6 separate regions of the Homo sapiens genome follow, and all the other regions are reported to be linked to region 2. The links are microRNA targets in miRTarBase. Many come from high-throughput screens and were not tested one by one. Region 2 holds a microRNA gene; each other region holds the end of a gene's coding sequence.

Region 1 (5,084 bases), not on the chromosome of region 2:
GTCACGGAAATCTTCCCTTCTGTTCTGTTGCCCTTAAAAACTCACCTATTTCCTTTTTTCTGCATTCCTTTTCTGTCTTCATGTGTAATAATATGAGGTGACCTTTGTTGTTGAGCACAGATTAAACTCAGGAGCTTTATGTGGATTATTTCATTTAATCCTTACGGTGACCCTGGAAAGTAGATGCTGTCATCTACCTCTTACAGGCGAGGAAAAGGAGGCTCAGAGAACATAGGCACTTGCCTTAAAAAGTGGAAAGTTGAGTCTCTCACTCTAGAGTCCATGTTCTGTTAACCACTTGGCAGCTAGAACATGTGTCCTTGTGTATCCAACTTCTTTCCTATTGAGAATTAATTCTTTAAAATAAATTCTCAGGAGTTGGGATAATTGGGATAGAGGGTCTGAATATGATGATAACCTGTCAAAGCTTTGACCCTTCTTCACTACCTCTCCTGCCACAGCGCCTGCCTCCAGCACCCTGAAGATGCTGTGTGATATGTCCTCCTTACCAAGTTGGTGATGGCTGCCTCATGGTGGGCCCTGGACAGGTGTGTGGTCCTGCTGAGCTGTCCACGTGTCGGAAGACCTGTTTAAGACAGTCATTTTTGCCTCTCCGCCAACTGTCTTCAGAGAAACCATTAGGTTAGGTGATACGGTGCCAGCAAGGGAAGCACCATCGTCCAGGATCTGCAAATCTGGTTCCTGGGAACCCCAGACTCCTCAGCAGATCTGGCTGTACATGGATCAGAACCACTTCTTCCCCCGCTTAAGCTGTGGTTTGACCCAAGGGTCAGCATATAGGACTGCCTGCTGCATTTAATGAAGGTGTTTCCTTTTGGAAGTCTGTGCTACCCTCTGCGCCTAGTTGGGAGGAGACATCCATCTGGTCTGGGATTTCGGGAGTTAGAATGGAAAGCTCTTTGCTAAAGACTGGAGTCATCCTGGCCTGCCAACTGGTGGTTCAGAGCCGGACGGGCTTGTTTTGGACATCACTGTTGCCTTCACTCAGCAGCCACGGGAGAGTGCTCCCCATGCAACTCCACCTTAGAAACCACGTCAGATACTGAGTAGCTTGCTGACTCCTGGAAACTTCTGGTTTTTGTTAGTATCATAATGAAGGCAAAGAGAACTAGGCTGTCATCTTTCAGCCTCTTTGACTTACTCTAGATGTTGGGAGCAGTGGTTGCCAGGTGAAACCTGGGCCCTTTGTCTTTTTCACCATGCTTTGGGCAGTTTCTGTATCCAGAGAGTCCGCAGGTTCAGATAAGCTGAAGAAGAGTAATAGAACAGCAAAGGAAGTGGCTTGAAGGATGTGCTAGTAAGCCCTGTGGTTTGTGCTTAGGTCTCTGCTCTGCTACCCAAGGAACTGGTGGTTCAGCTGGAGATAAAAAGAAGAATTTGCCAAGTCAGAGAAGAAACCCCAACCCCGGAAAATCCTCTGTCTCCAGTCTCTGGAGGTGAAGCAGGGACAATAAGCTAAGGTAGTATCTTGGCCATCCCAGGAAACTTGTGGCATTAGGACGATGAAGGCCATGCTTCAGTGTTTTCGTTTCTATTTCATGAGACTTTTTGTCTTCCTGCTTACAAGTGGGAAGATGATTGACAGTGACTCTACTATGCAGGGCTGTTGGTACCAACCTGAGCCCTATAGGTGGCAGTCCCTGGAGAAGTGGTCACAGAAGATGGAGCTCTGATCCCCTGCTTACCTCTTCACAACACTTGTGTGCAAAGATAGTTTTAGATTTGGTTTAGAAGCTATCCTCCAGAACAGGCTCCCATACTTAGAATGTTTCTAGTTAAGGTAATAAATTAGGCAACCCAAGTGTGACTCCACTCAAGTGTCCTTTTCTGTAGGCAGGAAGGGCCCACAACATGGCTTAAAATGTAGTCCATGGTTCTGGCCCACAGTACAGTGTGTATCTATACCAGGTCACCTGTGTTCAATCTGGGAGCCTTCCTGGCCAGTCTGAGTGGCAGCCAGAAGGGAGCTCATAGTGTCTAGGAGTCTCAGGCAAGGTAGGTCAGGGTACTGTGGGCAGGGGGGATGTGTGTGATAGGAGAGGGTACCCTAAACCCCATACCTTCCCTCCCTGACCTGAAAAGCTGATCTCAACAGGGATTCACACAGAATTAGGCTGTGTTTTTGCATTAGCTGGTAGGTGACTTTCTCAAAATTCTTAAATTCAGAAAGTATTTAGTAAACTTGAGGAAGGTATGAAATCTGGAGGAGGCATCCAGGACCCAGGGGTTTGATAGCTTTACAGGTAGGATCATACCACACCAAAAGAGCAGTGGACAATAAGACTATATGAGCTATATGAAGCTTTTAGGAATCATTTAGGACAGACAGAGCCCTAAACAACCCATTCATGACTTAAGTTGTTGGCTCAGTGTATGCTGGGGACAAAGAAAAACTAACAAGCCGACCTGCCTTTATGATAAATTCTAGTGTGCTTACAAGGGATGACTTCCTGAGGTGTGATCTGTCCACCTTGAAGAACTCCACAACTGAAGAAGGGGAGCTGTGAGAACGTGGATTGTTCTACAACTTGCACAGGGTAACAGAGGAAGTGGCTGAGGCCTAGAGTCACGTTTTCCAGTTCCCTTCGCAAACTATATTTCTTGGAACGCGAAAGGAAGCTTTACCTATTTCATAGAAGACCTGGAATCCATAACCTCAGAAGGCAATATTATTGATAGAAAATGTGGAAGGATCAGGAAGTTCTTAGATTCTTGGATGACAGATGCATGTTGATGCCCTATGGAGATGTCCTTGTGTTTTGAGGTCACTGAGGTAGGAAGACCTGTCTACTCTTGGTTTCACCACTAGAACAGTCTTGGGCTGGATGGGTTATAGAGCTGAGCGGCTGTGATGGTTCTGTTTTTACATTAACAAAAACAATTAAAAACACCAAAAACAACATTTGGATTGCTTCAGCTTCTTTTCAGTTGACTTCTCATATGTATTCTGGAAACCACCCAATGAAGTGGGCACCAAAGGTAGAGCTAAGATATTGTAAGGCCAGTGATCATCACCTCACCAATGCCAGGTGGTATGAGGGGGTACTGTAATTTCCTTTTTTTTTTTTCGAGATGGAGTCTCGCATTGTTATTTGGGCTGGAGTGCAATGGCGCGATCTTGGCTAACTGCAACTTCCGCCTCCTGTGTTCAAGCAATTCTCCTGCCTCAGCCTCCCAAGTAGCTGAGATTACAGGCGCCCGACACCACGCCCAGCTAATTTTTTGTGTTTTTAGTAGAGACAGGGTTCCACTATGTTGGCCAAGCTGGTCTCAAACTCCTGACCTTGTGATCCGCCCGCCTCAGCCTCCCAAAGTGCTGGGATTACAGGCGTGAGCCACCACACCCAGCCTGTAATTTCCTTTCTATAAGTGAGGAAACAGGCACAGAGCAGTCAAAACAGCAGGAAATGGCAGAAGCAGTACTGGAACCCAGACAGTCTGATGTCAGTGTCTTTTCTACTCTGCATTGTGCTAGGGTTCTAAGATGGGAGACTGGAGGTAGAGATTAACCCAGGAGGTGAGGAGATGGTGGCTTGGCCTGCACGTGACCTTTTCAGTTTACTTCCCACCAGGCCAAGAGTAATTGATGTTGATATGGTGGGGCTCTTGGCTGAGCCTACGTCAGTAGGTGGGGTCCCTCAACCTTGATCCTGAAAGATCAGTATCCTTTCGCACTTCCTATACCTCCACCCACCGCCAATAAATACATAAAGATTTAGAGATGAATGAATGAATTCCAACCTCTAGATTATTTGTTAACTTGTATTCAGGAGGACCTTCCTTCTAACCCCTAAATTCCAGGTCACTACCCTTGGCATTGGAGCCCTCTGGGTGGAGGCCATAGTTCTGGTATGCTGCTTGGAGTGTCCAGTATACCTGGGCACATCGTGTTACCCTCCTTAGTAGACATCTGGTTTGCTGTCTTCTCCCTCAAACTCTAGTCTCACTGACTTGAGCAGTCAGGTCAAGCGAGATGAGGATTAGATTGTTAAAATGACAGCTCTCTGAAACTTCAGGGGTATGGGGACAGGGCCATAGCAAATAATGATGCAGACAAGTCTTTTTTACCTTTTTATGTCTTTTTCAAGCACACATTTTGGTCAGGGTTGATGGCTGCAAGAAGGAGAAACCTATTCACCACCAAAATAGCTCTGAAAGGGAATATTCTCTCATTAGGCATTTTTATAGACAAGGAGCCTCACGGTTTTGGTACTTGCCTCGTGACCTCAAGTGGCTTGGACTTGCCGGGATCCAGTTTTGATCCTATTGTCACAGGACTTTTTAGCTGCAGAACCCTTTATGGATGGCTGGTCTCTTTCATTCAGTTCAAATTCTGAAGACAGCCTGATTGGCTCACTCTCACTTGTGGGTTGGTTCTCCTTATCTCTTCCCACCCAGTCCAATCATAGTATCCAGAAGATGAAGTCATGTGGTTCATATCATTACTTTTCTAAGGAGAAGTAGATGGATTTAAACAAAGCAAAACACTGCTGGACTGTTAGATATGTGTGTTTTTAACCTGCAATTGTAGTATAGTATAACACCCTTCACCAAGTTTCCCCAGTACTTACATCTCACTTAACTATAATACAAAATTAAAACCAGGAAGTTGGTACAATGTGTGTGTATAGTTCTATGTCATTTTATCGCTGTAACCATAAACAAAATACAGAATGGTTCCATCAGCACAAAGATCTCCCTCATGCCACCCCTTTATAGTTGCATCCATCTCCTTCCCCACCATTCCTGACCCTAGCAACCACTAATCTCTTCTACTTGTCCTAAATAGGTTGATGTATAAATAGAATCTTACAGTGCATGGCCTTTTGAGATTGTCTTGTTTTCATTCAATATCATTTCCTTGATACACATCCAAGTTGTTACGTGTATATGAGTAGTTCATTCCTTTTATTGCTGAGTGGTATTTCATGGTATGGGTTTAGCACAGTTTGTGTAACAATTCATTCACCTATTGAGGGACATCTAGTTTGTTCCCTGTTGGGGGCTATTACAGATAAAGCTACTGTGGCAATTGTGTGCAGTGGTTTTGTTTTGTTTTGTTT
Region 2 (5,084 bases):
CTGGGCTGAGCTGGGCTGAGCAAGGCTAGGCTGAGCTGGGCTGAGCTGAGCTGGGCTGAGCAAGGCTAGGCTGAGCTGAGCTGAGCTGGGCTGCGCTGAGCTGGGCTGGGCTGCGCTGAGCTGGGCTGGGCTGAGCTGGGCTAGGCTGGGCTGAGCTGGGCTGAGCTAGGCTGGGCTGGGCTGGGCTGAGCGGGGCTGAGCGGGGCTGAGCTGAGCTAGGCTGGGCTGAGCGGGGCTGAGCTGAGCTAGGCTGGGCTGGGCTGGGCTGAGCCAAGCTGAACCGGGTTGAGCGTGCTGTGCTGGGCTGAGCCAAGCTAGGCTGAGCTGAGCCAAGTTGAGCTTAGCTGGGCTGAGCTAACCTGGGCAGGGCTGAGCTGGGCTGAGCTAACCTGGACTGGGGCTGAGCTAACCTGGGCAGAGCTGAGCTGGGCTGAGCTAACCTGGGCTGGGGCTGAGCTAACCTGGGCTGGGCTCAGCTGAGCTGAGCTACGCTGGGCTGGGCTGGGCTGAGCCGAGCTGAACTGGGCTGAGCAGGCTGTGTCGGGCTGAGCCAAGCTGGGCCGAGCTCAGCAGAGCTGAGCCGAGCTGAGCTTAGCTGGGCTGAGCTAACCAGGGCTGGGCTGAGCTGGGCTGAGCTGAGCTGAGCTGAACTGGGCTGAACGGGCTGAGGCGAGCAGGGCCGAGCTGAGCAGAGCTAAGCCGAGGCTGGGCTGGGCTAACCTGGGCTGGGCCGAGCTGAGCAGAGCTAAGCCGAGGCTGGGCTGGGCTAACCTGGGCTGGGCTGAGCTGAGCTGGGTTGGGCAGGGCTGGGCTGGGCTGAGCTAAGCTGAACTAGGGTGAGCTGGGCCGAGCCAGGCTGGTTTGGGCTGAGTTGAGCTGACCTGGACTGGGGCTGAGCTAACCTGGGCTGGGCTCAGCTGAGCTGAGCTACGCTGGGCTGGGCTGGGCTGAGCCGAGCTGAACTGGGCTGAGCAGGTTGTATCAGGCTAAGCCAAGCTGGGCCAAGCTCAGCAGAGCCGAGCCGAGCTGAGCTTAGCTGGGCTGAGCTAACCAGGGCTGGGCTGAGCTGGGCTGAGCTGAGCTGAGCTGAACTGGGCTGAACGGGCTGAGGCGAGCAGGGCCGAGCTGAGCAGAGCTAAGCCGAGGCTGGGCTGGGCTAACCTGGGCTGGGCTGAGCTGAGCTGGGTTGGGCAAGGCTGGGCTGGGTTGAGTTGGGCTGAGCTAAGCTGAGCTAGGGTGAGCTGGGCTGAGCCAGGCTGGATTGGGCTGAGTTGAGCTGACCTCAACTGAGCTGACCTAGGCTGAGCTGAGCTGAGCTGAAGTAGGCTGTGCTGGGCTGAGCTGGGATGACCTGGGCTGGGCTGAGCTGATTTGGGCTGGGTTGAGCAGACCTGGGCTGAGCCGGGTTGAGCTGAGCTGAACCAGGATGAGCTGGGCTGAGCTGAGCTGGGCTGGGTGGTCCAGGCTGGGCTGACCTGGACCAGGCTGGGCCAGGTTGAGCTGGGCTAAGCCGAGCTGAGCTGAGCTGAGCTGGGATGATCTGGGCTGGGCTGGGCTGGGCTGAGCTGACCTGGGCTGGGCTGGGCTGAGCTGAGCTGAGCTGAGTTAAGCTGAGCTGAGCTGAACTGGGCTGTGCTGAGCTAGGCTGGGCTGGGCTGAGCTGGGCTGGGCTGGGCTGAGCCAGATTGTGCCTGGCTGAACTGAGCTGGGCTAAGCTGAGCTGGGCTGAGCTGGGCTGAGCTGAGCTGGGCTGAGTGGGGCGGGGCTGAGCTGAGCCGGACTGGGCTGGGCTGGGCTCAGCTGAGCTGAGCTGAACTGGGCTGGGCTGAACTGGGCTGGGCTGAGCTGAGCTGAACTGGGCTGGGCTGAACTGGGCTGGGCTGAGCTGAGCTTGGATGAGCTGGGCTGAACTGGGCTGGGTTGAGCTGGGCTGGGCTGAGTTGAGCCAGACTGATCTGGGCTGAGCCGAGCTGGGTTAAGCCGAGCTGGGTTGGGCTGGGCTGGGTTGGGCTGGGCTGAGCCGGACTGGGTTGGGCTGAGCTGAGCTGGACTGGGCTGAGCTGAGCTGGTCTGGGCTGGCTGAGCTGAGCTGTGTTGAGCCAAGCTAGGCTGGGCTGGGCTGAGCTGGGCTGAACTGGGCTGAGCGGAGCTGAGCTGAGCTGGGCTGGGTTGAGCAGAGCTGGGGGCTGAGCTGGGCTGGGCTGGGCTGAGTTAAGCTGGGCTGACCTGGGCTGAGTTAAGCTGGGCTGACCTGGGCTGAGCTAAGCTGGGTTGAGCCGATCCGGGCTGGGCTGGGCTGGGCTGAGCCAGGCTAGGTTGAGCTGGGCTGGGCTGGGCTCTGCTGTGCTGTGCTGAACAGGGCTGAGCTGAACTGAGCTGAGCTGGGCTGAGCTGGGCTCTGCTGTGCTGTGCTGAGCAGGGCTGAGCTGAACTGTGCTGAGCTGGGTTGAGCTAAGCTAGGCTGGGCTGGGCTGAGCTGGGATGAGCTGGGCTGGGCTGGGCTGGGCTCTGCTGTGCTGTGCTGAACAGGGCTGAGCTGAACTGAGCTGAGCTGGGCTGAGCTGAGCTCTGCTGTGCTGTGCTGAGCAGGGCTGAGCTGAACTGGGCTGAGCTGGGCTGAGCCGGGCTGAGTTGAGCAGAGCTGGGTTGAGCAGAGCTGGGCTGGGCTGGGCTGAGTTGAGCCAGGCTGACCTGGGCTGAGCCAAGCTGGGTTGAGCCAAACTGGGCTGGGCTGGGCTGAGCCAGGCTGGATTGAGCTGGGCTGGGCTGGGCTAAGCTGGGCTGTGCTGCACTGAGCTGGGCTGAGCTGGGTTGAACTGTGCTGAGCTGAGCTGGGCTGTGCTGAACTATGCTTAGCTGGGCTGGGCTATACTGGGCTTAGCTGGGCTGGGCTAAACTGGGCTTAGCTGGGCTGGGCTATACTGGGCTTAGCTGGGCTGGGCTATACTGGGCTTAGCTGGGCTGGGCTATACTGGGCTTAGCTGGGCTGGGCTGAGCTGAGATGGTCTTAGGTGGTCTGAGCTCAGCTAGGCTGGGCTGAGCTGGTCTGAGCTCATCTGAGTTGGGCTGAGCTGAGCTTGGCTTTGCTGAGCTGGGGTGGGGTGGGCTGGGCTGGATTGAGCTGGCCTGGGCTGGGATGAACTGGATTGAGCTGGCCTGGGCTGGGATGAACTGGAGGACATGGCACTGGGCCAATCTTCATGATCTTGTTGGACATAGATGGATAGCCTCAGCTGAGTCTACACTGCGTTCCCCATCACACTCACCCTCCCTATACTCACTCCCAGGCCTGGGTTGTCTGCCTGGGGAGACTTCAGGGTAGCTGGAGTGTGACTGAGCTGGGGGCAGCAGAAGCTGGGCTGGAGGGACTCTATTGGCTGCCTGCGGGGTGTGTGGCTCCAGGCTTCACATTCAGGTATGCAACCTGGGCCCTCCAGCTGCATGTGCTGGGAGCTGAGTGTGTGCAGCACCTACGTGCTGATGCCTCGGGGGAAAGCAGGCCTGGTCCACCCAAACCTGAGCCCTCAGCCATTCTGAGCAGGGAGCCAGGGGCAGTCAGGCCTCAGAGTGCAGCAGGGCAGCCAGCTGAATGGTGGCAGGGATGGCTCAGCCTGCTCCAGGAGACCCCAGGTCTGTCCAGGTGTTCAGTGCTGGGCCCTGCAGCAGGATGGGCTGAGGCCTGCAGCCCCAGCAGCCTTGGACAAAGACCTGAGGCCTCACCACGGCCCCGCCACCCCTGATAGCCATGACAGTCTGGGCTTTGGAGGCCTGCAGGTGGGCTCGGCCTTGGTGGGGCAGCCACAGCGGGACGCAAGTAGTGAGGGCACTCAGAACGCCACTCAGCCCCGACAGGCAGGGCACGAGGAGGCAGCTCCTCACCCTCCCTTTCTCTTTTGTCCTGCGGGTCCTCAGGGAGTGCATCCGCCCCAACCCTTTTCCCCCTCGTCTCCTGTGAGAATTCCCCGTCGGATACGAGCAGCGTGGCCGTTGGCTGCCTCGCACAGGACTTCCTTCCCGACTCCATCACTTTCTCCTGGAAATACAAGAACAACTCTGACATCAGCAGCACCCGGGGCTTCCCATCAGTCCTGAGAGGGGGCAAGTACGCAGCCACCTCACAGGTGCTGCTGCCTTCCAAGGACGTCATGCAGGGCACAGACGAACACGTGGTGTGCAAAGTCCAGCACCCCAACGGCAACAAAGAAAAGAACGTGCCTCTTCCAGGTGAGGGCCGGGCCCAGCCACCGGGACAGAGAGGGAGCCGAAGGGGGCGGGAGTGGCGGGCACCGGGCTGACACGTGTCCCTCACTGCAGTGATTGCTGAGCTGCCTCCCAAAGTGAGCGTCTTCGTCCCACCCCGCGACGGCTTCTTCGGCAACCCCCGCAAGTCCAAGCTCATCTGCCAGGCCACGGGTTTCAGTCCCCGGCAGATTCAGGTGTCCTGGCTGCGCGAGGGGAAGCAGGTGGGGTCTGGCGTCACCACGGACCAGGTGCAGGCTGAGGCCAAAGAGTCTGGGCCCACGACCTACAAGGTGACCAGCACACTGACCATCAAAGAGAGCGACTGGCTCGGCCAGAGCATGTTCACCTGCCGCGTGGATCACAGGGGCCTGACCTTCCAGCAGAATGCGTCCTCCATGTGTGTCCCCGGTGAGTGACCTGTCCCCAGGGGCAGCACCCACCGACACACAGGGGTCCACTCGGGTCTGGCATTCGCCACCCCGGATGCAGCCATCTACTCCCTGAGCCTTGGCTTCCCAGAGCGGCCAAGGGCAGGGGCTCGGGCGGCAGGACCCCTGGGCTCGGCAGAGGCAGTTGCTACTCTTTGGGTGGGAACCATGCCTCCGCCCACATCCACACCTGCCCCACCTCTGACTCCCTTCTCTTGACTCCAGATCAAGACACAGCCATCCGGGTCTTCGCCATCCCCCCATCCTTTGCCAGCATCTTCCTCACCAAGTCCACCAAGTTGACCTGCCTGGTCACAGACCTGACCACCTATGACAGCGTGACCATCTCCTGGACCCGCCAGAATGGCGAAGCTGTGAAAACCCACACCAACATCTCCGAGAGCCACCCCAATG
Region 3 (5,084 bases), not on the chromosome of region 2:
AACTATGGCAGCAGAACTGTGTTAAAGGGAAGGCCAGGAAGCTTTGTCAGCTAGTTGTGGCTGGGCCACAGGCTAGCTTGACCCGCTGACTTTTTCCTGTATGATATTAAGAATTATATTTCATGGCCGGGCGTGGAGGCTCTTGCCTGTAATCCCGATCCTGTGGGAGGCTGAGGCAGGAGGACCACTTGAGCCCGGGAATTCAAGATCAGCCTGGGCAACATAGCAAGACCTTGTCTGTATAAAAAATTTAAAAAATCACCCAGGCATGGTGGTATGCACTGGTAGTCCCAGCTACTAAGGAGGCTGAGGCAGGAGGATCACTTGAGCCCAGGAGTTCAAGGGTACAGTGAGCTATGATTATGTCACTGCCCTCCAGCCTGGACAACAGAGCAAGACCCTGTCTCTTAAAAAAAAAAAAGTTATTTTCCAGAGCCATGTCCCTGGATATTGTCCTCCAGCTCTCAGCTTCTCAGCTTGGGGAAGGAGGAGGTTCAGGAGAGCTACCTGGACCAGCCCACCCCAGTAAATCCTGTGTCACTTCTCCAGACAGGCCTTGAGGGTTCCCCACATGAAATCCAAACTCTCTCTCTGGTCTCTCACAGGATGCTGGAAAAGGCTGATCCTCACCTCGAGTTCCAGCAGTTTCCCCAGAGCCCCTGATCTGCCTGGACCAGAAGACAGAGGGCAAGAGGAGCAAAGTGAACACCAAGCAACTGGAGGTCTGCAGCTGGAAGCCCAGCCCACAGCAGGACAAGCAACTCTTGTCTAAGGGCAGTGCTCTCTTTGGACGAGGTAGTCAAGAGAGACCAAGGCACCACCCCATCCACAGCTGACCCAGCCTCTGTCTAGGATCTAGAATCATAACCCACACAGGCCCACTGCAGGACAGGTGGCAGAGGAGCTATTTGGGACAGGAGTCAGTTCTCCCTTTCTGCTATCCATCACTTATAACCCCACAGGCCAGAGGAGAGGTCCTGAGAGAGGTGACACTTCAGGGACCAGAGGCAGCACGAGGGCTGGCATCTCTCCTTCCAGCCCAAACTGCACAGCCCCAACCAGGTTCCCAACACGTGTAGCAGTCATCAGCCATTCCTTAACAATGAATGTGGTACCTGGTTAGTGCCAGCCTTGGGAAGGAGGGAGGGAGGTAAGAGGGGCTTGGTGATCTCTGGAGGAAGAGTGTTGCCTTTGCTGTGGTTGGGGAATCGATCCTTGGCTATGGCCTACCCACTCCCCTGGCTGAAGAGTGCCAATCATTACAAATCAGCTTCAGCAAACTGAAACAAACCTTCTGGTGCCTTGGGCTTTGGGGCCCTCTGTTTTCCTGCTCCCAGTCTGCCTGCCATACGTTAGACAACAGAAGCTGCTGGGCTGGGCAGGAGCCCTGAGCTGCCTGGTGGATTGGTACCAAGTGGGGCCAGCCAGGGCTTCTACTGACTCGCTGTGCAACCTTGAGCAAGCCCCACTAGGAACGGCTAGATCAGCAATGCCCCAAATTGTTGAATCGTGGTGATCACATTTGGATGGACAAGTTAGGAAACTTAGCTGATTCTCTGAGATACTTCCCACTTCCTCATACATTCTACAATGAGATGCCTCTCTTCATGGGCCTGGGGAAAGGATGAATGAGTGTGGCTGGACTTTTGACCTTTAATGTCCCTGAGCAGTTCTTGGCCCTTGGGGAGAAGTAGGGGGAGGATCTGGCTGACTCAGCCCCAACCGAGGGGTAGCAGCTGCAGCCCAGCCAAGCAGAACACCCTGGCCCTACAGACCTGTGTCTGAGCAGGCTTTGGAGGAAAGGCCACTTCTGAGTCCTCTGTCTCAGGAGAAGCCAGGCCTAGGTGCTTGACCTGGTGATCTGAGCTGTGTTTGTCCTAGTATGGGTGGCAGTCACCTCTGAACACACTGGCCTTGGCTTAGAGGAGGCTTGTGACTTCAGCTGTTCCAGCTGGGGCTGGATGCTGGACTCTGATTCCCTCAGAGAGACAGAAGATCGGGCAGAGGTCAACCAGAAGGCCACACAGGGCAGTGGACAACAGTGGAGGGTATACCAAATAGAAATAAAACGCAGGAAACCTCTCTGAATACTGCCCTTGGGGACCTCAGGAGGGAGTGGGACTGATTGGAGACAAAGAGCCAGAAATCATCCCCTGGAGATACTCAGACACTGTATTGTTATTGGCGCTGTCCTGTGAGGGCAGTGTCCAGGCTGCCCTGCTTGTCATATCCATGCCCTGGCTCTGGCCCCGGTGAGCACTTGTGCTGCATGAGGAAAGGAGGATCAGGTGGGGTCAAAACCAAAGCATCGAGGCTGGCACTGGCCAAGACAGACTCTGGCAGGGAGGGGAGTGGAAGGAAGGAGCCCCAAACCTGGAGTGAGACCTTTGACTTTCTGATGATGTGGCCAAGAACTAGGAGTCACCTGGCCAGCACAGCCAAGAGTGGGGCTGGGGGCGCAGCCAGCTTTAAGGTGTCAACACCTGGCCCTTGCGGGGAAAGAGCCTTCAGCAGCCCCCACGGCCTGGAGCCTGGGTTTATTGGAGGGTGCTTTCTTACCCTCTGAACCCAGTGGAGGAGGGGGCAATGGGATATTCCTGCTCTGTATGGCCTCTGGGTCAGCTTTTTGTTGCAAAATCCTATCCCCCGCTGCTAGATTCTTTGAAGCAAGGGAGAAGCAATAGCCCAGCCTCAGAATGATTCTCAGGAAAGCAATTCCACTGCCAGTGGACTGGGTGCCAGGAGGCCTAGGTCTGGATCTGGGGCTGCCACTAATGACAGGAAAGTGGGCTTATCCTCAACCTTTCTGAGCCTCAGTGTCATTATCTGTAAAATGGGGATGATAATACCAGGTAGAGTTGCTCTGATGACTGGAGACCATGGAGCGGAGTGTTTGGGAAATGGCAAAGATTTGTGAGGGCTTCGTGCTTTAGAGATTTGCTACCCTTAACCACCAGCATCAGCTCACCTGGGAATCTGTAAGAAATGCAGAGTCCTAGGCCCCACCCCAGATCTCCTGATTTTAACAACATTCCCAGGTGACTTGGATGCATGTTAAAGTTGGAGAAGCTGCCCTAAGTGACAACCCTTTGCCTTTTCAGGACTTTGCCTCTTTCCACAGAGCTGCAGGTTCTGTCTAGGCTGCTTTTACTGCCATGGGGGCTGCCTGGTCCCTGAGTAAGCAGTGGGTAGCCCTGGATGGCTGAGGGGCTGGGGAAGCCAGCTGGGCCAGACCAGGAAGGAGCCTGAGGCACAGCACCAAGGCATGGGGTAGGGTGGGCTTTGAGGCACGGCCTCCCCATGCCCAGACCCAGGCCCAAACAGGAGGCTCCTGTGCACCAGCAAGTGCAGCAAAGCTGGCTGCAGTGACAAGGAAGTCAGAGGGAGGGCTGGTTTGCCTCAACCCTCGCCCTGGATGTGGCAAAAGATACCACACCGAAGGAAGCTGTAGGGGATCTGGGACTTAGTCAGGCTAGCTAAGGGCACTGAGTGATTACAGGGCAAGGCCACAGAGCGGCAGGAAGTTGTAAGTGCAGGGGCCAGGCACAGTCTGAGTGGAGAGCCATGATGGCACTCATCCCTGGCTGGCTCCTGGGCCCAGGCCCTTGCTCAGAATACAGTGCCCAGGCCCGCCTGGGCATTGCCTTAATTCCTGTCTGAGGCTGCCTTCCGTCATCCTCCTCAAGCTGACTGCTATCAGCAGGAGAAGGGAATGCAGAACCACCCCCACCCCAACTCCAGTGTCTCCAGAACTGAGCAGGGACCCTCCCCATGACGGAGACAGACAACCCAATGGCAGGGCCTGGGGGAGTTCTAACCTCCCGTGCCCAAGCCTGACTTCCCTTCCCTCTCCAGATACTGAGGAAAGTGGGTTGGAGGTGGGCCATGAGGGTGGGGGACAGGGGGAGGGAGAGCCATTTCCTAAGAAGAGCCCAGGTTGTCTCAGCCCAGGGAGACTGGTTTCAGGAGCTGTTCCTTCAGAAAGGACGATGGAAATGGAAGTCACAGCAGGGCTGGGGAACTGGGGACTGGTTAGGTTGGACCCATGGGTGCAGCACCCTCCAAACTGGTGTCAGAGCCTGCAGATGAGTCCCGGGAGGAGCGGCCCTGCAGGAAGCGGATGATCTTCTCAATGGTGGCCTCCTGGTATTCGTGGGACCACCTGTGGGCACAGGAGCCAATGTGGTTCAGACAGCTGGGCAGAGGGAGCTGCTAGTCAGCTGTTTGCCCACACTCTGCCTGTCATGGTGATTTGTACCCTACCCCCCTGGTCCCAGGGCCCTGGGGCTCACTTGATACCGTTGAAAGTAAGCACAGCCTGCATGTCCTCAGGCAGGACCTGGGGCTCAGGCCACTCGAAGCCATCAATGATGGGCACAATGTTCTTGCCGCAGCTTAAAGCAGTCACAATCTCCTGGAGAAAGAAAGGAAAGGAGGAAGATACCCCTGTACCCATCTAGGGACCCTTGTAGCCAGGCAGGTGCTGGGAGGCCCACTGGCCCGAGGCTGGGCCCAGGGCAGGACACCAGTCCTGATGTCCACCTTGATGTCTACCTTAACCCTTGTAGTGTAATAAAAAATAAATATTTTTCCTTTGCCCAGAGTTCCTGGCACAGAGCTGCTAAAACCCTTGGAATCTCTTGAGTGATGAGTGTCTTTGTATGCTAAAGAGATGATTCCCCACTGGGGGCCCGGGGGGTGCTATGGGGGTAGCCTAGATAGTTTCAGGAAGAGGGCTGGTCACCAGGGAGACCAGGGCATGACTAGAGGATTGGAACTTTCAGCCCCACCTCCCAGCCTCCAGAGAGGTGCTGGAGATTGAGTTCAATCACCAATGGCCAATGATTTAATCAATCATGCCTACATAATGGAACCTCCATAAAAACCCCCAAACAAGGGGTTTTGAAGAGCCTCCAGGTTGATAAACAGGTGTAGGTGCTGGGAAGGTGGTAGAAGGCATGGCATCCACACCTCCACCCTCCATACGTAGAGATCCTATGTATCTCTTCCATTTGGCTATTCTTGAGCTGTGTCCTTTATAACTGTGAAATTAAATAATTCAGCTGGGCATGGTGGGTCACGCC
Region 4 (5,084 bases), not on the chromosome of region 2:
AAGTTTGCCCTCAAGATCTTTGTCAAGAAGAGGCAGGAACCAGGAAACTACATCTTCGTCTTTAATTACCTTGTATGCTGTGCCAACACCAAGGTGAACTGGCCCATGTTCCCTGAGAGCTTTGGCAACTGGGGACAGGACAATGAGCTGCTGGAACCTCTGTCAGGTGTGCTTCCTGCCAACCGGAATGTCCCATTCAAATTGAAGCTGCATGGTATTGCCAAAGTCCTGGTGAAGGGGCAGGACACATGGCCCCTGACCCTGAACCACGAGGGCTACTGGGAGGGAAGCTGCAGCACAGCTGGCTGCCAGGAAGTCTATGTCATGGTGCTGGAGAATGCCAACCACAATTTCTACTCCTACATCCTGAAATACAAAGTGAATGCCCAGTGAGGGCTGTGCCCCGGTCTTACCCTCCCAAAGGGCCAAGGCCAGACCTCCCCAGGGAGGGCTCGAAGGAAGTGCAGGGAGCCCTGGACACCACTGAGTCTGCATGAAATCCCTTCTAGGCCTCTGCCTCAGTGTCCCACCTCTGCCACAGGAGCTGTGATCTTTGTGTTCTGAAGGCTTCACTCAGGTGTGGCTGTGACTGAGGGGGCAGAGGCAGTGGCTCTTTAGAAGGAAAAGGTGCTATGTAAATCTAAGGTATTGTAAACTGTACACCTGCATCCAGATGCCCCTTCTCGTATTAGTGCTGCTGCTGTTGTTGTTGCTGTAGGGTTGATGAGGGAAAGCAGGGATATTGCCCAGGTTGACAGCTTTTCACATGATGCTTAGAGAATTCTCTTCCATGCCCAAGGGGACATGATTTGCAAGGCTGGGTTGTCCTTGAATCACAGAGCCCCTTTCAAGCAATATCACCGTGCCTCTCGACAGCTCCGAGCCCCCAGGGAATCTTGGACTATCTTCTCCTCCCAGACCTGATCATCTTCTGCATCCTGCTGCCTCTTCATTAGCTACTTCTTGTTCTTCAAGAGCCCAAGAAAAAGGGTGTGGTGAGGAAGCCAGCTGACCCACAACTGGCTGGAAGCTGATCGTCTCCAACATCCCTAAGTATAGTCAGGAATGTGACAACCAGAAAGTTGTGAGGAGACTGCAAAGCAAAGAGCAGCCCATGCCCGCTGTGGCTGTGCAGGTGGGAGGGACACTGTCGGCAGAGCTGCAGCCTTGGTCTGAGGGTGTAAGACCTCCAGCTCTGCTCTGAGAGGAGTACACAGGGCAGGTAGTTCAGTCTAAGGCCTGGAGTGCCCTCCAGGCCCTCACAGAGCCTGGGCCTCAGGCCCCTGCCCCACCTCCACAGAGAGCCTCCAGAGGCTGGCCAGGCCCTTGGGGAGTCTTGTGGATAGCCCTGAATAAGGACCTGGGCGCAGATCAGGTGAGTAGTGCAGTGCGGCAATGCCGAGGAGACTCACACTTTAACAGGGCTCTGCCTGCCCCCAGTGTCTCTACCAGCAAAGCCAGGGCTGGGAAGAATTCCAGCTGCACGAGAGCAGCTTTTGTGCCTGTCTCGGAGAAAACATCCTATCCCGTCTCCTTTCCTCCCTTCTCTGAGAAGACAGCCCCCTCCAGTCTCACCTTGCATGGGGACAGCTCAGGGCTCCTTGCTTGCTCAGGCACAGACTGAGAGGCCTCAGCTGCCCAGCTGGCCCTCAGCAGCGCCTCAGGCTGCCGTTGCCATGGCAACGGAGGAAAGGCTGACTTCAGCGAGGGCAGATAAGAGGGAAAGGCGAGAGAGGCCCCACATGGCCACTGCAGAACCATCCTGGCACACAGACATGCTCCCTGCTGAACTCCCGGCTTCTCCAGCTCCGTGGCCCCTGGCTGTCTCAGTGCCCCCCAACCCCTGAGAGCCAGCACTGCCTGGCACCTCTCCCCACAGCCCCTCCACAGGCCTCCAGGCTCAACCACAGCCAGGGCCAGCTGGGACCCTCATAGCTTCCTCCGTGGCACTCACCCTCACATCCCTGTATCCAACAAATGCTCACAGAAGTACCAGATGCTTGGGCTACAGAGGTGAACCAAGGGGGCCCGGCCCCTGCCATCCAGAGTACAGGGTGAGGAAACTGCCAGGCAGCAGCAGCCTTCCCTGCCCAGGCCTGACTGAAGATCCAGGCTCCAGACACTTCTGTTCATTATCCCCCGGGATCCCTCCCCTAAAAGTCCCCACTGCCACCCAGCACGGTGGCCTAGCCCAGAACCAGCTCACAAGGGTGCCCATCATCCAACAGGCCGGCGGCCTCGAGCAAAAGGGGTGTCTCCCCTGGGGGGCTGAACTGTCCTGGGCAGGTCCTGCGCCCTCCGCAGTCTCTGCCACCGAGGCCACCCAGCCAGCCTCGTGTCACTCACACCTGAAAAATGCACAAAGGCCCCGGAGGCATAACAGCTATGCACCACCACAGGGAAACAAAGGGAGTTTTACACCCTGAAAACAGCCGTCTTGCACACTTCTGATTTTATGGGCTTAAAGAAATGTGTTTGTTTCATCAAAACAATAAGTGCCTTCGATGACGCATGTCACTCACTGGACCCCGCGCTGGCTGCCTCGCTTAGTCCTGCTGGAGACCCCCATACCTTTTCGATATGCAATATAATTAATCAATACATCCTGGAGCATTGCAGAGAATGCCACCCAGCAAAATAGGAGCTGTCCCCAGCACCAGAGAGGGAGGCCCCGCCCCTCAAAGCACCGCAGGGCATCAGCAAGCCCCTCCCTCTCGTTTAACTAGGCACCCCCTTTGTAAAGACAGCTGTAGGCGCAGTCAGAAAATCACCTGCATTTCTTTCCACTGAAGTAAAAATACATGAAATGAAATCTAATCTTCATGAATTTTTACACGCATGCTGCTCAGGGTAGACATTCGGAGTTGCATTTTGAAGGCTTTTCTTTAAATCCCCATCTTTGTTTCCCGGGCGACGAGTCCCAGTCGCCGGCGGAATGGCACGGGCGCCCCCAGGTGTCCGAAGTGCGGAGCTGCCGGCGCTGCACACCGCGAGGCTGATCTATCACCGGGCTTTTTCGCAGAACTTGAAAATGCTGTGGAAATGTTTATGTTAAAATCACTAGGTGCTTTCTCGTGGCTTCTCAGCGCTACCTTATGTGTACACGGAGGACATCTTTGTCACGCACAAGCTGTGAGGGCATCCTGGGGGACAACCTGGTGTGTTGAAAAGACAAGGGATGTGATGGGACTGTTTTGCCTGGAAATAACTTCTTGAAACAGAAGCACTTGACATAGGACTGGATGGAACAGCTGTGACTACACTCATTACTATACCATTGAAGGATTGGAACCGATCAAACTCAGAAAGTATCTGCTTGCAATTCTCAGGATGGCAGCCCCCAGGCCACAGGGCAGAAGGGAACCGAGGGTGGAGGAGTGGTGGGCAGAGGCACTACAACCACAACTTCAGTACACTTCTTTCCAGCTTGTTTCAGAAGTGCCATAGCTCAGCTGGACTCCATTTTCAATCTGATTATGATCATTGTGAGTTCCCCATATGTTACATTGTCCTACCAGGACAGCCTCCTCACTGCCTGCTAAGATTAAAAGTAAATAAATAGACTAACTGAAGCATGAAGGATTTCGGCTAGACATAAAGAACTATTTCCTGTTGTTAAGCAGGAGGGACAAGTTGCCAAGAAAGTTTGTGAAATCCTCTTCTCAAAGGACTTGAAAAGGAGAAAAGTTTTCCCAGTGGTCTGAGGTTTTAGATGCCATGTTCACTAGAAGGAGTGGGTTTTCTCCTCTCCAAACCAATTAATTCCTGAGATATCCTGGTCTGCCTGCAGCAAACAGAGGGTTAACAGCATCACTACATCATTTGCTATTGGCAAAATTTTCGAAGATGGTGTGCCTCTATTGCCCGCCTCAGTTTATCTTAGGTCTATAATTTCTTTTCATTTGGAGTAAGTAGTCGGCAATTGAAAGAGGTGATTACTTCTCATAATGTGTGCATTGAGTTGTGTGGGCCGGTGGCTGTTGAGTATGCTTTCTCCATGTTGTTGCTGGTGTTGTTTTTCAATAAAATTTATATTCATTTTTATCCAACAATGTAATTATCGATTCATTCTTATCATGTATCTCACAAGGTGGGAAATGGAGAGAAACAGGAAAAATGCTTTCATGTTCAAAGGAAGCCCTAGAAAAAAATCAATGTCCCAGCCAGTTGAATGCGACGGTGAGATGCGAATGGAATGTCAGGCAAATAGCTATTTCACATTAAAGAAAACATAATCAGGTTAGCTCCAGCCACTCTATGGTTCACATGCCTTTGAAGAACACGAAGGCACTGTTTCTTTCATTGAATCTTGTTTAACTTGAAAATTTTAAAGTCAATCCTAATTTATTTTTACAGTGGGAGAAAAAAAATTACCAAAAATGCCTATCAGCCTACTTTTCTTTTGAATGTATATAAATATGTACTTCTTGATATTCATATACATGCAGAAACTTTCCAGCCGGTCACCTAAGCAGATTATTCATAAACTAGACATTTAGAGAAATACAGAAAATGAAAAATCCAGACATTTCTGAGAAGCTGCTGTAACCATGGAGACCATTCTCGTAGCTGTAGTGTGAAGGACAAAAAGAACTTGTGTTCCCAAATCTGGCTTCGTCATGTCTCTCGCTGCTAGATCCACAAAAACGAGGCCCAGCATGCTTCTCCTTAGGAAGGAGACCCGGCAGCATATTAAGAGGAAGTCAGAAGAAACAGTCTTCCACACAAAAGAAGGAGTAGCTCTTGAGTTATTAGAACAGTCTGAAAATGCCATCCCCAAAGCTGGAGTGGATGACCTCCAATGTCCCTTCCAGTCCGGAGAGTTTGTGATGCCGTGTCTCTGTGAACAGATGCTGGCAGGCAGTGGGCCTGGGGTTGTCAGTTACAGAACATCTGAAGGGCCCTGCTGTGGAACATCTGAAGGGCCCTGCTGTGTTAAGAGCCTGCCCCTGGAGCCCCTGGCAGACTGCACTGCTGGCTCCTCTCTTGCCTGAGGGCAAGGGGCTGGAGAAAGCCCAGCAGAGGGACCAAAGGGGAAGAACAGCCTCTGACAGGATGCTGGTTCTGTCTGATTTTGCAAGCAG
Region 5 (5,084 bases), not on the chromosome of region 2:
CTGCCCTCATGAACAAGATAAGTGCCCTTAGAAAAGGACCCAAGGGAAGTAGCTAGGCCTTCTCCCCTTCCATCTCTCCTACCATCTGAGGACACAGCATTCATCCCTTTCTGCCACCTTCCACTGTGTAAGGATGCAGCAAGAAGGCACCAACTTGGAAGCAGAGAGCAACCCTTAATTAGACACCAAATCTGCTGGTTCCCTGACCTGGGACTTAACCACTCTCCAGAACTATGAGGAATTAACCTTTGCTCTTTATGAATTACCCAGTCTCAGGTATTTTGTTACAGCCGCACAAACGGACTAAGACTCTGTTGTTTTAATGAGCCTGGAATTTCTGCTGATGATTCTGAGGTTCCATGATGCTAAGCTATAGTGGCTAGGAAAGTCTCAGTTCAGAGTGTATCAATGTCAGGTTTGGAGATTCTGGGATGAGAAACGTGGGTTTTGAAAAATGCTTTGGTCTGAAATCCTGTAATAGGTGTCAAAAATGTAAATGCTGGCCAGGCACGGTGGCTCACGCCTGTAATCCCAGCACTCTGGGAGGCCAAGGCGGGCGGATCATTTGAGGTCAGGAGTTCGAGACCAGCCTGGCCAACATGGTGAAACTGCATCTCTACTAAAAATACAAAAATTAGCCGGGGGTGGTAGTACCGCGCCTGTGGTCCCAGCTACTCAGAAGGCTGAGGCATGAGAATCGCTTGAACCCAGAATGCAGAGGCTGCAGTGAGCTGAGATCATGTCCACTACACTCCAGCCTGGGCGACAGAGCGAGACTCCGTCTCAAAAAAAAAAAAAAAAAAAAAAAAAGCAGATGCTCTTCAGGGCCAAGCAGGCAGGGTAGGGGTGTCCAGATGTGAGGCATTGGTGACTGGGCACATAAGAGTGAATGCCTCCCCTACAGAAAGTGACTCCTTCTCAGCACCAACAAACCACTATCCCCATGGGAACTGGGGGTTCAGCAATATAGATCTCACAATTTTCGAGACAGTCCAGAAACTTCAATTTTTTTAAATGTGAAATTACCCATTTTTCAACATTGGTAACCAACGTAACTTAAAAAAATTCAATAGCTCTGTGGAGACCAGATACACTCCTCTAAGTCAGATGGTGGCTGTGGGCACTAGACTGCCATTTCTGGTGTGTGGCTTAGTGGTTAAGAGTGGATGCACCTGCATCCAGTTGTCTGGGTACAAACCAGGGCTCTGCTGCTTACTGGCTTTGTGACCTCTGGCAGGTAACTCAACCTCCCTGTGCCTCTGTTGTAGCAGATTTTTTTTTTTTTTTGGAGACGGAGTCTTGCTCTATTGCCCAGGCTGGAGTGCAGTGGTGCAATCTGGGCTCACTGCAACCTCCGCCTCCCAGGTACGAGCGATTCTCCTGCCTCAGCCTCCCAAGTAGCTGGGACAACAGGCACGCACCACCACACTCAGCTAAGTTTTTGTATTTTTAGTAGAGATGGGGTTTCACCATGTTGGCCAGGCTGGTCTCAAACTCCCGACCTCAGGCAATCCACCTGCCTTGGCCTCCCAAGCTGCTGAGATTACAGGCATGAGCAACCATGCCTGGCCTGTTGTAGCAGTTATAAAATAGTCATAAAGGTAGCCTCTAAGGATTATTATGAGCACTCAGATTACTGTGAGGACTCAGACTTGGAGACAATGCCAAAGTCAGTATATGGCTCTTACGGCCTGGTTCTCCGCTACTTTCTGACCTCACCTCTTACCTGTCTTCCTCAGTTCCAGCCTCGTGGCCCTGTGTTCTCTTCCCAAGCACCCCAAGTGGGCTCCCACCTCGGGCCATTGCATTTACTGTCCCCACAGACAGCCACAAGGCTCACTCCTGCCCCTTCTCTAGGTCTCTGCTCTGATGTCATCTCAGTGAAGCCTTCCTTGACCACCCTACTTAAAACTGCAACCTTCACACACACAAGCTTCCCACCCTGTTCCTTTTTCTCCATAGCACTTATGACTAACATTCCATAAAATTTGTATTTTTTTTTTTTTTTTTTTTGAGACAGTCTCGCTCTGTCGCCCAGGCTGGAGTGCAGTGGCGCGATCTCAGCTCACTGCAAGCTCTGCCTCCCGGGTTCATGCCATTCTCTTGCCTCAGCCTCTCCGAGTAGCTGGGACTACAGGTGCCCGCCACCATGCCCAGCTAATTTTTTATATTTTTAGCAGAGACGGGGTTTCACCGTGGTCTCAATCTCCTGACCTCTTGATCCGCCCGCCTCGGCCTCCCAAAGTGCTGGGATTACAAGCATGAGCCACCGCGCCCAGCCACAATTTGTATATTTTACTTAAATACTTGATTACTGTCTTCCCCATTATAACCTCCACAAAGGGAGGGGGTTTTTGTTCATTGTGTTGACTGCTATATTTCCAACTCCCAGAGCAGTGCCTGCCATCTCATAGGTGCTCAATAAATCATTGTTGGGTGAATGAGTAAACAAGTAACAGTCCCTAACTTGTAAGGATCTGATGTGACTGTCCACATAAAGCACTGAGCCCAGGGCCTGGTCCACCGTGAGCGCTGACTTAATGATGGCCATTACAGTAATTCAGGTTCTATTCTTGAAGGTTCTTAGTCTCCAACCTTCTATGAGTTAACACATGTAAAGCGCCTTAGAACAGGGCTGGTTGCCCAGTAAATTCTCAGTAAATGATAGCTATTATTATAATTAGGCTTCTATTTTCAAAGTAGCTTCGGCGCCAAGCTTCTGTGAATTACGAATTAGTACTTCCCATCTCTGAGCCCAAGTTTTGGCAAGGCTGTAAAGAGCTGGTCCTTTGCTACCCTTTGACCTCATCCCTACAGCTCTCGCCTCCTTGGCACACCAGGCAGGCTCCTGCCTCCTCCAGCCTGAAGTGCTCTTCCCCATTGATGTACATGGCTCCCCCCGGCTTCAGATCTGTCACCTTCTCAGGGAGGACTATACTCTTTAAAATTGCAACCTCCTTCCAGAACAGTTCTCCCTTCAGTCCTTTTTTAAATTTTTTTCTTGCAACAAATTCCTGCCATCATCCAGGCTAGAGTGCAGTGAGCACAGTGGCACAATTACAGGCCACTCCAGCCTCAACCTCCAAGCCTCAAGTGATCCTGAATAGCTGGGACCATAGGCATGCACCACCAAGCCCAGCTAATTTAATTTTTTGTAGATGGGGTCTCACTGTGTTGCCCAGGCTGGCCTTCAACTCCTGGGCTCAAGAAATCTTCCCACCTCGGCCTCCCAAAGTGCTGGAATTATAGGTGTGAGCCACTGCACCTGGCCTTCCTTCAGTTTTTTTTTTGTGTGTGTGTGTGTGTGTGTGGTTTTTTTTTGAGACAGGGTCTCACTGTTGCCCAGGCTGGAGTGCAGCGACACTTCTTAGGCTCCAGCAATCCTCCCACCTAAGCCTCCCTAGTACTAGGACTATAGCCGTGTACCATCGTTAGCCCAGCTAATTTTTTGTATTTTGTAGAGATGGGGTTTTGGCATGCTGCCCAGGCTGGTCTCAAACTCCTGGGCTCAAGCGATCCACCCACCTCAGTGCTGGGATTTCAGGAGTGAGCCACCATGCCGGGCCTCCTTTCAGTGCTTTATTGTTCTCACAGCATTTATCAGCACCCGGCATATGCTGTATCTTACTTGTTTATGTCTGTCTTCACCAGCAGCCTCTACCCACTCCCATGTAAGCTCCATGAGGACAACGATTTTATTTTATTCACTGCTGTGTTCCCAATGCTTAGCACACAGCAGGTACTCAAAAATATTTGTTAAATGAATTAATGGATCACAATCCCTGTCTCACAGGGTTATTCTAAGAAGCTGATAATCTCATGCAAATTAAGTACAGCACTCTGTAAGTGCTGGGAAAATGGCAGCTGCAATTATCATTAAGGTTCTATTTTTGTAAGTTCCTAGATGCACCATTTCTATGAGTCAATATATATAAAGCCCTTGGACTGGCACCAGATACCCAGGAAGCGCTGAGAAAGCGTAGCTGTGATTATAATTAAAGTCCTCTTTGTGGAAGTTCCTAGGCTATGTGGCAGAAAGCCCTAGCTGTCCTCCATGAACTGTTTTCTGCTTTCTGGGCGCTTGGCTAGACTGCTTCTCCCAGGTTGTTTTTGCAGTTAGCTGCGGCCACATATCTAATTTCTCAGCAAAGGCGTGTCAATGGAAGCAGTGTGTGCCCCTGGCAGGCCAGGGCTTGTAAGACAACACGTGCACCTCACCAGGCATCCTGTCCTCTTCTGCCAGCAGGACCCAGGCTATGGCCACCCAGTCTGGACCATGGGGGAGACAACAGGCTTAAGGGATGGCCTGGGTCCCCAAATGACTCACCCAGCACCATTTTGTGAGTGAGAAACAAAATTCTATTATTAGAGCCTTTACATTATGGGGTCTGTAAGTAAATACATGGAAACCTCATCGAATACAAGCACGCAGTAAATGTTATCTTTCCCAAAAGACCCCAAGGTTCCCCAAGAAGGAGCCCAGGGGGAATACACACACACACACACACACACAAACACACACACGGGCGGGAATACACACACACACACACACACTCTGAACCAACACACACAGATACAGATTTTGGCTTTTATTCTGGCCATCACACATCTACTTCTAAGACAACACAGACCGGCAGTACCCCATCCCCCATGACCACTGTCACAACCCCAATTTCCTCAGCCCCCTCCTCCCACCCCACCCCTTCTGCCAAGCTCCCCGTATGGGGGCTCTGCCTACACCTCACCCCGGGCATGCAGCATGAAGTGCCCGTGCAGCTCCCCCAGGTTGTCGAAGGAATCCTCACATTCCGTACAGTGGTAGGTTCCCTCCTCCTCCTCTTCCTCCTCCTCCTCCCGCCCAGCTGGTCGGCCCTCCCCAGCCCGAGGTGGTTCCTCCTCTTCCTCCCCGAGGGCCCTGCCTTCAGGGGCTGGTGCTTCCTGGGGGGCTGTAGCAGGGCAGCAGAGCCGGCAGGGTGGGGTTCCCGGTGGGGCCTCCCCAAGGGGTGAGCGGCCACAGAGCTGGCAAGGCTGGGCCGGGGGCTGGGCTGCACGGGGGGCCCGGCGGGATGGGCCACCACGGCCCC
Region 6 (5,000 bases), not on the chromosome of region 2:
TGATAGCATCCAAAACTCAGGCGGAGCCCCAGGCTAGGTAATTCTCTGAGCTAGATTTCCAGATAGTCCATGGTCAGTGCATGTGTTCAGATGCTCTGTGCAGACAGCCTGTCACCCTCTGCGGCTCCATTGCCAGAATCTGAGGGGGTTTGATTTGCAGATCCTCATACAAAAGCTTAGCAATCCTCTCCAGGGAGGTGTCTGGCCAAACCTTTTCTCTGACTCCCCAGGAGGGCGGTGCTCCCCTCTCTTCACACCCTCCATTGACTCTGTGTCATTCTTCCAAGGGAGCACACCTCCTGCCTCCCTCCGCTATCCATCTTCCATGGAACTGCGGATTCCAATTTAATGAGATGGGCTCCCAGTGGCCTCTTCTCACTCCATCCAGAGTTTCAAATTAAGTGCAAGGCAGTGAGCACAGAGGTCTTGGCTGGCTACCTGAAGGCATTTCCCCAAGGAGGATTGCAGACCACTCTCAGGCAACAGGATGGCCTTCCCTCCTCAGTAGCAGCTCTGCAACTCCCTGGACAGAGCCCCCAGGGGCAATTAATAGCCTGACTGCCATGGTCTCTGCAGTGAAACTGCCCTTGCTACATCTGGACTAACAAAGGAGCAAAGACCCTATGTACCTTATCTGTACGTACCTCCAACAAGCTGCAGTCGACCAGAGGAGGGGAGGCCAGTTCCTCTCCCAAGGGTGCCACACACCCCTCCCTGTTCATCACCAGACAGGCCCTTCCTTCTTAGCCATATGCTAACCTTCTCCTCCCTGGGAAATTTCCTCTGCAGGAGCCAAAGCAGATGGGAGCTGGAGTTGCTGGAGCTCCTGGTCTGTATGCAGAGCAGGCATCCAGGAAAGGAGAAGAGAGTGTGACAATCCAGCACCTCAGAATGGAGGGGCCTCGTGTCCAGGGCGGAAAGTACAGACGCAGGCTTGCTGAGGGCCTCTGGACACAGGCTGGACCAGATGCTGTGGATGTCGACCCCTGCACTGACTATTGGATAAAGACTTCTTTCAACTAAGAGAAGATGCAAATCAGCACACTTTTTTCTTTGTTCTGCCAGCTTCCAGGCCTAAGACTAGGTTTTGCTGTCTACAGCCAACTATTCTATTAGTTACAAAACTCAATCATTTTATTCAGCAACTGGATGTTGACTGTTAACTAGAAGCTCTGTCCTACTTACAGCACTTTGGATCATCAAAAAAATAAAGTAAAATAGAAAACTGAGAAAACTCAATCCATGACCAGGGAGAACTTACAGGATGTTAGAGACAAAACAAGCAGACACCTGAAACAATCAACGCCCAATAAAACAAAGTAGGATGAAAATTCTCTTAGTTCTTTGATAACAATTTGTTCACTCATAGAAACATTATTAATTGGTAGGGTAAGCAGACACTCTGAAACAATGAGAAAAATACTAAAAATTGACTTGAGTTATTTCAATTTGCCTTCATTTGAACTCGTTTATTAATTCAATTAATCTCTCTAGTTCCCTTAAGTTCTTACCACAAATGTGACATTTCTCCTGATTATTTTCTCATGGAACACTTCTTTTCCTACATTGCAATTTTCACAACTAGTAATTATATTATCTTAGTCTATTTGGGCTGCTATAACAAAAAGCCATAAACTAGGTGGCTTATCAACAACAGAAATTTATTTCTCACAGTTCTGGAGGCTGGGAAGTCCAATATCAAGGCAGATTCAGTGTCTGGTGAGGGCCCACTTCTTAGTTTTTACAGGACTGTCTTACTGCTGTGTCCTTACATGGCAGAAGGGGCTAGGCAGTCTCTTAGGTCCCTTCTTTAAGGGCACTAATCCCATTCATTAGGGCTCCATTCTCGTGACCTAGTCACTTCCCAAATTTCCCACCTCCTCATGCCATCACTTTGGGGTTAGAATTTCAACATATGAATTTTGAAGGGACACAAATGTTCAGATCATAGCATATATATTTAATCCCACATCTCCTGTGACTATGTAAGACCTATCTCTTCCTAAGAGATAATAATCTTGAGGGCAGAAGTCAGGCTTCTTTTGTTTAGCACTGTAGCCCCGGAGGTCAGGCTTGTGCCTTAAATGTAGCAGGGACTTAGTAAGTAGCTGTGATTAAATAAGTGAATGAATTGAAGAGTCAGTTCATAGATGAGGTACACATTGGTCAGCCTCCCAGAGTGGAGAGTGGATTTGAAGAGGCCAACTAGTGACGATCAATCCGCCTTCTCTGACCCATCTCTAGGGGAGGCCAATCACACCAGCCAGCCTCAGAATCCCACAGCCCTCCAGTCATGCCTCAAATAGAGAACATGTTAGGTAGCACTGAATTTTCTGTTTATCCATCAGTTTCCCCTATTAGATTTTGAGCTCCTTGAAGGCCAAATCTACAATCCTAGTGTATAGTAGGTACTCAAGAAATGTCTGGTGACTAACATATATATTGATGCTTCAAGTCATTCCAGAGTCCTCAATCTTGTTAAAGTCAGAATAAGAATTATGTACCTGAAACAACTAGAGGAGGTTTTAGGGAAATTAATTGTTGAGTTAATGCTAAAATATGTAGCACACAAAGTAAGTGCTGAAGGAGGCCAGGTGGGAGAGAGATTTACCTTTCCATTACTGTGTATATTGTGGATGGCATGGGGATTGCCCCAGGCCCTGAAGGACTTTTCAACTAGGCAAACTGGGAGGAGATCTCTCAGACAGAAATTCGGCATGAGACAAAGTCTGAAAGTGAGAAAGACATTTGGGGGTGCATGCAGGTGCGTATGTGTCAGGAAAGGGGAGTGAGGAAAATAATGCATGTAAATAAAATAAGGCATATAAAACACTTGGCACTATGCCTGTCATACAGGACATTATTACCCTCATGCTTATCGTCATCATTATTAAGACTATTATTAATTAAAGAATGTGATTTAGAAGTTAATTTCTGAACTCTTTAGATCTTCTACCTGAAAGAAGAAAAAAAACTCTCCTATTGCTTTTCATCCTGTCATTAATTTGCTTTTTACTTTTTAACTTACATTAATAATTAACCTACATTCATTATTTACTGAGTAGTGGCAGTTACATGCTAGAAAGTGACCAAGGGCCAAATATGCCAGGCCACGTGGGCACTTTAAAGAGAACGTTTGATCTTGACCTAAAAAAACAGTGGTTCTTAAACTTGGTTGTATGTTACAATCACCTGAGCAGTTTTCAAAACCCTGATGTCTACAGACTGCACCCGAAACAAATTAAATCTTAATCACTGGGTGTAGGGACCAGACATCCATAGTTTTTTGGGGTTTTTTTGTTTGTCTGTTTGTTTTGAGACAGAGTCTCCAGGCTGGAGTGCAATGACACAATCTTGGCTCACTGCAACCTCTGCCTTTGGGGTTCAAGTGATTCTCCTGACTCAGCCTCCTCAGTAGCTGGGACTATAGGTGCACGCCACCATGCCCAGCTAATTTTTGTATTTTTAGTAGAGATGAGGTTTCGCCATATTGGTCAGGCTAGTCTCGAACTCCTGACCTCAGGTGATCCACCCACCTCGGCCTCCCAAAGTGCTGGGATTACAGACTTGAGCCACTGCGCCCGGCCTGACATCCTTAGTTTTAAAAGTTCCTCAGGTGATTCCAAGTGCAGCCAAGGTTGAGGCTCCTGAGAGTGGAGGAATCATTATACCTGCATGGGGAATGGGGTCTGTGACAAAACAAAAAGGCAGGGACAGTAAAGTTATTTGTGCTATTTTAACTAGTCTTATGCAAGATCTCTTAAGGTTTGTTTTCTATGTCCTATTGTGCAGCCAAGAAACTGAATCTCAGCAAGGTTGAGCCTCATGGGTCACAGAGCAGGCCAGGGTTTGAATGCGTCACATCAAACACACGCTTCCATTTCCTCCACCCACCCTTTGCTCTTGTCTGCTGGTGGAGGGATTTGGAGAATAGTGTGTGGGGCACAAGGGAGGGGAGGAAACCAGAGGCAGGGAGGCTCATCAGGAGGTAAGTGTAGTAATCTGGGCAAAAGATGAGAACTTTGAGATTAAGTAATTGCCTGGATCATCTGTGAGCCAAAACCACCAGCTGAGCAATGCTGTCTTCCTGTCTTCTGAGCCAGAGAACCCAAGCCAGCATCTGTCCCACTCCTCTGAGGATGCTACATCCCCAAAAGCTTTACAAATTAAAATACAGTGGCAGTTTCAAGCATAGCAACCCTTTATTACATCAGCAGCTTTCCCTCTTCAAGAATGACTGGCTCTCACAAAGCAAAAAGCATAAAACTCATCCAATGCATTTTCCCTTAGGTCTTTTAAGAAGATCTATAATCTAAGGTTTTATAGGTAGTGGGTGTAAATACATGGTTTAAAGATATAATCTTCAGCTTGACAAGGTGTCTTTTGAAAAGTAAATTAATGACAGAATAAAAAGCAATAAGGAGAGGCTTTTTTCTTTTTTTTTTTCTTTGTGAGAAAGGAAGATCTAAAGAGTTCAGCACTCAATGAATCTCTTCTGAACTATATGCCTTTAGGGTGAAGAAAATGGACAGAGAGAAAGGGTAGGCTTCAAAAGCCACATTGCAGAAATGAGAGATGGCAAAGTGAAGCCACTGAGTGCCATGAGAGGAAGGGGATGTGATACGGATTAGAGGAAAGGCATGAAGAAAATTTATGGTGATACTCCTTCACATCAGAAATGGGCAAAATACTCTCTGGAGATCTCTTGTGCAGGCCCCATGCTGGGTGCTGGAGGTTCAGAAATGGATCAGACATGGTCCCATCCCTGGAAGAATGCAGCCTGGTAAAGGAGAGCTGTGAACAATGGCAATAGGTCCCAGGCAGCAGGAAGCCCAGGGACCTGTGGGGGATAACCAGCTGTGGGAGCAGGGCAGGCAGCCAGGACATGGCCAGCAGAATCTCAGACACAATGAGAGTTGGAGCATCAAAGAAAGCAGAAGGAGGGGCACGATTGTGCAGGGGAAATGTGCAAAGTAACAGAGCTGGAAAACCAGGAGATA

What was found. The annotated mature microRNA hsa-miR-4539 reads GCUGAACUGGGCUGAGCUGGGC and lies in region 2 at 2,596-2,617, shown strand. An mRNA with a match to its seed (bases 2 to 7 or 8) in the 3' UTR can be bound and repressed. Matches are read on the target gene's strand: a 7mer-m8 pairs with bases 2 to 8, a 7mer-A1 pairs with bases 2 to 7 and ends in A, and an 8mer does both.
Region 1: the mRNA of KANSL3 is a reported target of hsa-miR-4539. Seed matches in the 3' UTR shown: 7mer-A1 at 960-966 and 7mer-A1 at 1,258-1,264.
Region 3: miRTarBase lists SARM1 as a target of hsa-miR-4539. Seed matches in the 3' UTR shown: 7mer-A1 at 2,562-2,568 and 7mer-A1 at 1,899-1,905.
Region 4: the mRNA of KY is a reported target of hsa-miR-4539. Seed matches in the 3' UTR shown: 7mer-m8 at 1,225-1,231.
Region 5: the mRNA of ZNF428 is a reported target of hsa-miR-4539. Seed matches in the 3' UTR shown: 7mer-A1 at 4,555-4,561.
Region 6: miRTarBase lists C8A as a target of hsa-miR-4539. The part of its 3' UTR that is shown has no 7-base or 8-base seed match.

The regions. Positions count from the first base shown.
Region 1 is chr2:96,591,009-96,596,092 of GRCh38, reverse strand. KANSL3 (KAT8 regulatory NSL complex subunit 3) reads left to right here. Exons shown (of 21, transcript NM_001115016.3): 21 at 462-2,921. The coding sequence ends at 482. Among named protein-coding and RNA genes, the nearest start is that of KANSL3, 45 kb to the left of the region's middle.
Region 2 is chr14:105,855,046-105,860,129 of GRCh38, reverse strand. It overlaps MIR4539 (microRNA 4539), which reads left to right and starts at 2,558; the gene lies at 2,558-2,617. MIR4507 (microRNA 4507) reads left to right here and starts at 1,955; the gene lies at 1,955-2,006. It overlaps MIR4538 (microRNA 4538), which reads left to right and starts at 1,888; the gene lies at 1,888-1,965. It overlaps MIR4537 (microRNA 4537), which reads left to right and starts at 577; the gene lies at 577-646. It also overlaps IGH and IGHM.
Region 3 is chr17:28,395,235-28,400,318 of GRCh38, reverse strand. It overlaps SARM1 (sterile alpha and TIR motif containing 1), which reads right to left. Exons shown (of 9, transcript NM_015077.4): 8 at 4,293-4,414; 9 at 1-4,162. The coding sequence ends at 4,033. SLC46A1 (solute carrier family 46 member 1) reads left to right here. Exons shown (of 5, transcript NM_080669.6): 5 at 606-5,084. The coding sequence ends at 663. Among named protein-coding and RNA genes, the nearest start is that of SLC46A1, 8.4 kb to the left of the region's middle. RefSeq lists enhancers at 1,734-1,823, 2,588-3,271, 3,955-4,638.
Region 4 is chr3:134,598,888-134,603,971 of GRCh38, reverse strand. KY (kyphoscoliosis peptidase) reads left to right here. Exons shown (of 11, transcript NM_178554.6): 11 at 1-4,049. The coding sequence ends at 393. It also overlaps a transcript of CEP63 not described here. Among named protein-coding and RNA genes, the nearest start is that of KY, 50 kb to the left of the region's middle.
Region 5 is chr19:43,602,883-43,607,966 of GRCh38, forward strand. It overlaps ZNF428 (zinc finger protein 428), which reads right to left. Exons shown (of 3, transcript NM_182498.4): 3 at 4,342-5,084. The coding sequence ends at 4,735. Among named protein-coding and RNA genes, the nearest start is that of SRRM5, 6.7 kb to the right of the region's middle.
Region 6 is chr1:56,916,776-56,921,775 of GRCh38, forward strand. C8A (complement C8 alpha chain) reads left to right here. Exons shown (of 11, transcript NM_000562.3): 11 at 790-1,448. The coding sequence ends at 941. Among named protein-coding and RNA genes, the nearest start is that of C8B, 47 kb to the right of the region's middle.